Homo sapiens: one gene and its partner. The gene in region 1 interacts genetically with each later gene. Each region holds a gene or a part of one and is shown on either strand. Other genes may lie near its edges.

What was found.
Region 2: changes in POLN (region 1) and CDC27 together harm fitness more than expected from each alone (negative genetic interaction), as found in Homo sapiens cells (one large-scale study listed by BioGRID).

Annotation. Positions count from the first base shown.
Region 1 is NC_000004.12:2,169,062-2,172,879, forward strand, and holds part of POLN (DNA polymerase nu), read right to left. Parts: intron 2,121-3,818; coding exon 2,037-2,120; intron 1,714-2,036; coding exon 1,618-1,713; intron 1-1,617. UniProt on the Homo sapiens protein: DNA polymerase with very low fidelity that catalyzes considerable misincorporation by inserting dTTP opposite a G template, and dGTP opposite a T template. Is the least accurate of the DNA polymerase A family (i.e. POLG, POLN and POLQ).
Region 2 is NC_000017.11:47,137,179-47,140,996, reverse strand, and holds part of CDC27 (cell division cycle protein 27 homolog), read left to right. Parts: intron 1-2,105; coding exon 2,106-2,258; intron 2,259-3,636; coding exon 3,637-3,818. UniProt on the Homo sapiens protein: Component of the anaphase promoting complex/cyclosome (APC/C), a cell cycle-regulated E3 ubiquitin ligase that controls progression through mitosis and the G1 phase of the cell cycle.

The DNA of each region.
Region 1 (3,818 bases):
GCAAGCAGGAAAAATTTGTGGCACGAGTCTGGGGACAGAGAAGGAGCTGGCGCACAGAGCTGCAGGCAGCTCAGCAGGCGCTGGAGTGGGGGGAGAGAGGAGGTGCCGGGCCAGGAAGGCACAGCCAGAGCACGGGCCTGGGGATACGCTCTGCAGCTCAGATTTGATGCTAAGTGCAATAGAAGCTACTGGAAGTCCTAGGGCAGTAACGTGACTTTTCCAATGCTTTTAAAGGATCACTCTAGGTGTGAAGGATGAGCAGCAGGGGCAAGAATGGTTGGAGGGATCTAAGTGAGAAAGGTCTATGGTAGAGACGGGGGAATGGGGAAAAGGAGGCATGCTCAGGACCTATTTTGTGGGTAGAGACCTTGACACTCACTGTGAGAGGAGGCGGAAGGAAAGTCAAGGACGACTCACAGGACTTTTCTCAGAATGGCCGATGCTTACTGGTCTTTTGAGAGCTTTTACGTCTGGCACGGTCCTAAGTGCTGTTTCACACAGACACATGGACACACACACACGCACACACACTGAAGCCTTACAAGATTCCAGTAGGGAAAGTACTATTATTATTTTTCTTTTATAGATCAGGAAACTGAGGCACAGAGCAGTCGAGCAATGTTTTCATGTTGTCCAAACCATGCTGGCCAGTGATGGCTGACCCCACTGCCCTTGTTCTTACTTACTACTCTGTACTGGCTCCCAAGGACCTGGAAGGAGGACGGGCCCTTCACTAAGGTGGAGAAAGCTTGAAGAAGAAGAGGATTTGGAAGAGGGCAGTTTCAAGTCCCTCCAGTGGAGCATCCTCTGTGGGAGTCCATTATTCACCCAGTAACTGTCCATTAAACCAGCAAAGGCCAAGTGCAGGCACAGTCAACGAGCTCAGGCTCCTTGAGGGCCTGTACTCTAAGACACCCTCACAGGGCGGAGACTGGAGGAACGTGGTGCTGGAGAGGGAATAGGGCCAGAGGAGACATCTTAGAAGGAAACCTTCCTCTGTTACAAAGTCGAATGCTGGACAGAGCACAGAAAGCACAAACTGGAGCCTCAGAAGCTGGTTCTCACCACAGTAACCAATATTCACAATAACATGAATTCACTTATTTACTGACTTCCACTCTGTGTCTTTTCAGTAAAAGCACTCACTGTCTTCTGAATATCGATCTATACTCTCCCACTCCAACACAGCACAATCTCACTACTCCTTGTCTTCAAAAAAAATTGATTCCTCTCAAGAGAGGGGTAGGTAAAATTCTCTAAAATAAATCTGAGGAAAGGAGAAGACTGATGACCCGTTTCTAGTTCCTCTTGGGGACACGAAGCAAAGAGGTTGTGACTGGATTGTCAAGAAATTGGTTTTAAGAACAAAACTCCACCAAATTATGCTTTTCAGGAAGTCAAGCCAATTAACTGCTTCTGCAAAAGTGTACTGTCTGCCTCTCTCCCTTGGTCCATAGCGAGAAAAGCAACCTTGGTGTGGGGAGCCCCTCTTCTGCAGAAACTGCTGCCAGCATGAGGGGACGGCCTGAGAGTCTCGGGTGGGTCTGAAGGTCAGCACACATGTGGTGCAGACATGCTGTCATTCTAAAAAGAAAAAGGATAACTCTGAAACCTTACCACTGCTTCTGATGTAGACGGGTATTTCTGCAACCCCGTTCTGGGGAGACTGTTCCTTTGACTCAGCAGGTGCAGCTTTAACTTGCCAAAGAGGATCTTCAACAAAACAAATTAAACATGGTGAGGGAATCTCACATTTGAGAGAAACAGAACATTACTATAGCAGAGCCCATGCCAACAGCCAGAGAAGACACACCCAAACAGACATTACAACATGCTTAAATTCTCATTTAGTACTTTTCTACAAGTTAAAGGCTTTGAAGTAATGAATCTCAATGTGTTCATTACTTGTGAGAGAACATGAAAAACTTACTTTTCAGATAGTTGACATAAAATAATACTTATAAATTCAAAATAAATCTCCCTTTAACTCCTGAATAAGAAATACATTTTATGAAAGAACCAAAATTCAGCTTTACCTCTCGAAGCTGGTTATTGCTCGTTATAAGAAACCGTTCTCCTGCAACAAAATGAGCTTCTTGCTCCAATTCCTTGAGACGAGCCTGAAAATATGATACACACAATTAATTTCATTCATAGTTTTCACAATTTAAGATTGTTTAATTTGTTCATCAAACAATTCTCAACAGCGAGATGGGCACGGTGGCTTATGCCTGTGATACCAGCCCTTTGGGAGGCTGAGGCAGGAGGATCACTTGAGACCAGGAGTTTGAGACCAGCCTGGGCAACATAGTGCGACCCCACCACTAAAAAAAAAAAAAAAAAAAAAAAATTAGCCAGGCATGGTGGTACACACCTGTGGTCCTAGCTGCTTGGGAGGCTGAGGTGGGAGGATTGTATGAACCCGAGGGTTCAAGGTTGCAGTGAGTTATAACTGTGCCATTGCACTGCAGCCTGTGTGACAGTGAGACACTGTCTCAACAAACAAACACATACACACAAAATTCCCAAAGAAAGCTCTTAAAAGAGTAATAAATAACCTATAATTTATCAAAATAAGCATAAAAATACACACTTTGGCCAGGCACGGTGGTTCACACCGGTGATCCCAGCACTTTGGGAGGCCGAGGCAGGTGGGTGTCTTGAGCCCAGGAGTTTGAGCCCAGCCTGGGCAACATAGTGAGACCTCATCTCTACAAAAAAATAAAAATAAAAATAAACATATTTTGCCTCATGGTGAAATACCTAGGCTCATAGAAGCATCCTCCCCCAAAGGTAAGAAAACAAACTTAAAGTAGTAAAAATAATGGGAAAGAAAGAATCAATTCTCCAACAATATTAAGACTAGAAAAGGGATCCAACATCACATAGAACAAGACAGAGGTAGAAAGTATAGGAAACAGGCTTGTATCCAGAATACATCAGGATATCCTATACATCAGTAAGAAAAAATATAAAAATGGGCAAAAGACTTGAGCAGATCCTTTACAAAAAGAAATTCCTAAAAGCTAATGATGCTATGAAAAGCTAATCGATCCCACTAATGTGAAATGTGACATACAAAAATGATATCACTCTGGTCCAGAGCTCTAAAGTAGAGTCAGGGAGCCATTCTAAGGACTGCCTGCATGACCTGAAATGCTGAAAAACAAAAACAAAAACAAAAAACAGGAACTTGAATTGAACCTCTGAACTGGGCTCAACTGCAATGACCACAACATCCTGGAAAACAGCTAGATTTTGCCAGTGCTGCACCTTCTGAAGAGCGACAACCAATGAGCTCAACGGACTCATGTACTAAGCCAACCGCCTCCAACAATGATAATTCTTTCACAACAACTGTGTATTCGCCCTTAGCTTCCTTTTAAAAATCTCAACTCCCCTTCCTCTCTTCAGAACACTTATTGGCCTTTAGCTGAACCTGTGTCTCCTGAATTGCAGTTTCTAAGACCCCAGGAATGCCTTGTCTAACTGCTTTGCAGTCTGCTCTTTCACCTCTTCTTGGTTGACATTAGTAATCAGGAAAATAGAAACAAAACTCATAATGAGATATCATTATAGCCTCACCAAAATGGCTACAATGTAAAAGTCTGATGCACCCAGGGGAAGTGAGGATGTGCAAGAATGGGATCCCGTATGCATTCTCATGGGTGAGACTCTGGGAAGCCATTGGGCATTATTGAATAAAACTAAGCAACAGCTTCCCTGTGTCCCAGCAGCACTAGTCACCTCACAGCCCACAGAAACCTGTGCCCACAGGCACAGGGAATGCACTCAGAGGTACAGCGTGGTTTGTAACG
Region 2 (3,818 bases), on another chromosome or scaffold:
AAGAAAAATGAAGCATGGTGAGGAAACTGGGAGACAATGAAGTATGGTGTTTTTGTTTTTATGTACTCAGAGGGAAGGTTACTCTTCCCTTCATGATCCATGCAAAGATCTAGGGGAAAGGTGTTCTTTCCCACAGGGAATACATACAGAGGATACCTATTCATATAATTTAATTTTGAATAGTACAGAACAGAGAGTTGAAGACAGAAAGTCTTATTCATTGCTACAAAACCCATGTTTCGATTATGGTCCTTTACTGGTATGTAGCATATACACAGACAGGCAAGAGCTGTGTTCGGAAAAGCCATTTAAAAAATTATTTCTAATTTATTGTTTCACAGCTACTTTAACATAAATGAATTTTATTGTTTCCCCTAGTTATAGTGGTGACCCAAATATTTAATTAAAGAAAGCCTCTGTTTCAACTTAATTTCTGAGTTTTTTTCCCATTTTTCTTTTTGTCTATGCCATAATCATTTTTCAGAGGAAGCAACAGATTCTGAAAACTTTGAAACCAAAAGGTACCTACCTATATTTGGCTGGTAGGTCTTTTATCTTGTTACCATGCCTGAATGAAAAACTTGGCCAGGTGTGGTGGCTCATGCCTATAATACCAGCACTTTGGGAGGCCAAGGAAGGGGGATCACTTGAGCTCAGGAGTTGGAGACCAACCTGGCCAATGTGGTGAGACCCTGTCTCTACAAAAAAATGAAAAAATTAGCTGGGTGTGGTGGCACTCACCTGTGGTCCCAGCTACTTGGGAGGCTGAAGTGGAAGGATCACTTGAGCCCTGCAGGTCAAGGCTGCACACTTACCTTTATAACTTTTAAGAGATTGCAAGGAAGTTACAAATCGTTAAGCTATTCCTATATATCATATGACCACTTCTTGGAATTAAGCACTCAGTTTTAAAATGCTCTTATTTTCTGTCATACTCATTTCATTAAGAATAGTCCAGATATTCCTTATTATAAACTAAACTGTGAAAATTTCTTTTCCTTTCTTTTTTTTTTTATTACCTAGACCTTTTCTGGCAGCTGAGAATTTTGAACTTGGTAAATTGATAAACTAGGAAACTGATTTTATATAACCTAAATCCTCAAACTTTAGAGGGAGAGAAACACAGTTCTGGGAGCTGTGAATGTGATGAGGAAAAAAATTGATGAGGCAGCTGAGGAGAGACCCTGAAGTCAAGAGAGTGCTGCAAAGGAAAGGATAATTAATAGGTAGGGCCTATGATTCCTAGCAGACACAATATTGGTGTGTATATTCAGGGCTCAATAGGATTTATAACCATAGGATTGATAGCCAGCTTAACCTGTTTCTTCCCTCTAAATTTTCTGGCACAACCTCTCGGTAAAAATTGTTCAAAAATAGATTTTATGTTACAGAAATCATTCTTCCATCATCTTTCCTAAAAGAGTTATTCTGGCCAGGTGTGGTGGCTCATGCCTGTAATCCCAGCACTTTGGGAGGCCGAGGCGGGTGGATCACAAGGTCAGGAGATCGAGACCATCCTGGCTAACATGGTGAAACCCTGTCTCTACTAAAAAATACAAAAAATTAGCCAGGTGTGGTGGCAGGCGCCTGTAGTCCCAGCTGCTTGGGAGGCTGAGGCAGGAGAAGGGCGTGAACTCGGGAGGCGGAGCTTGCAGTGAGCCGAGATTGCGCCACTGCACTCCAGCCTGGGCGACAGAGTGAGACTCCATCTCAAAAAAAAAAAAAAAAAAGAGTTATTCTGTAATGCCATTATTAAAACTTGGAAATGAGGTTTTTGAGAAGGAAATATTGACTTTTCTTTTGAATTGTAGCTTTGTATAGATTTCTCTTCGGTCTTTTTGGTAGAAACTCAAATTTCCTTTTCAGAGTTCATGTTCTTACCATGGCTTGTATATAAATACTAGGTTGACTGTCAATATGGTTACATCACTATTTGACCTGCCATAGTAGATTGCTGAATTTGTCCTTGTGTTAATACTCATTCACATAAAAACCATAATACAAGGCAGCATTTAGATCCTGTGAAGATAATGACCAGGGCTTTCCCTGTGTATATATATAAATTGTATCAACTTGTTTTCTCTTACTAGTTTTTTTTATTTCAGGCTGAAAGAATATTCTCAGAGGTTAGAAGGATTGAGAATTATAGAGTTGAAGGCATGGAGATCTACTCTACAACACTTTGGCATCTTCAAAAAGATGTTGCTCTTTCAGTTCTGTCAAAAGACTTAACAGACATGGATAAAAATTCGCCAGAGGTATGTTAACCAAAATACTTTGCTTATATAGTTACCTTTTTGATCACCCTCAACAGATAGAGATGAACCAAGCAATTCAAACACTATTTAGTGTCACCCACGCTTATTTCTTTTTTTTCCTCTCTCTCTAGTCAGGGACTCAGAGAGGAAGAGAAAGTCCTAGAATGTGTGGTGCAGATTCACAAATAGAAAAATCACAAAGCAGCTATTTCATTCAGGATTTATCGAGATTTGACTACGTTAAATTTGCTGTTGTCACCAAGATTAGGGTTCGTTGAGCAGAAGTTACATAGATTGAAAAAATTAATAATTTTAAATTAAAATAAATTAGTATTGTCATTGTAAGACATAGGTGCAATTAATGTACATGCTCTAATCTTGTAAGATTGTATTTCATTGCATCTCAAAAATATTTAATGATACTTTTGTAACATATCTAAGCTTAGAATTAAACACAGTCAACTCCCATTATTTGCGGTAATTCTGTAGTCAACATGAACACTGAATTAGTGCTACTGAACCAATGTTCCTGGGAGTGATGGAGAGTTTGAAACAGAGATAGATTGTGGATTATAATCTTGAATCCTAAAAATAACTCATCCTGGTAGATCCTATTTTCTTTACAAAAGAGAGAATGCTGCTGGGTGTGGTGGCTCACACCTATAATCCCAGCACTTCGGGAGGCTGAGGCAGGCGGATTCCTTGAGCTCAGGAGTTCCAAGACCAGCCTCGGCAACATGGCAAAACCCTTCTCCACAAAAAATACAAAAATTAGCCAGGTATGGTGGCTGGCATCTGTGGTCCCAGCTGCTCGGGAGGCTGAGACAGGAGGATCACTTGAGCCTAGGTGGCGGAGGTTGCATTGAGCCAAGATCACACCACTGCCCTCCAGCCCGGACAACAGAACAAGACCAGATCTCAAAAAAAAAAAAAGAGAGAGAATGAGGTTCAGAGGTGACTTGCCTGAAGCCATCCTACTTAAAAGTGCCAGCAGTGGGATTCAAATTCTGTCCAACTGTCCCCAGAGCCAAAGCTTCTTGCACTACACTAAACTAGCCCACAGAGTTTCTGTCCCTGGTCATCTCTGCATGAGAGCTAAAACAAGAAGGTAGAGTCACATTATTCAACCTCAAATGAGAACATACCTTTTGATGACTATGAAAGCACTGCAAGTATTGATTTTGGTTTTACAAATAAATTTTAGCAATCAGACAAATTCACAAATATGGAATCTGTGAATAATTAGAATTGAGTATCTACTGAAGCTCCTCCATTTTTGTCTTTCTGTTCTAAGTTGAGGCTTGATTTTAGTCATAGATTTGGTTTTAGAAAAAGTAAAATTTTAATTCTGTTTGGTTTTTGTTCCCATTTTTTTAAGGCCTGGTGTGCTGCAGGGAACTGTTTCAGTCTGCAACGGGAACATGATATTGCAATTAAATTCTTCCAGAGAGCTATCCAAGTTGATCCAAATTACGCTTATGCCTATACTCTATTAGGGCATGAGTTTGTCTTAACTGAAGAATTGGACAAAGCATTAGCTTGTTTTCGAAATGCTATCAG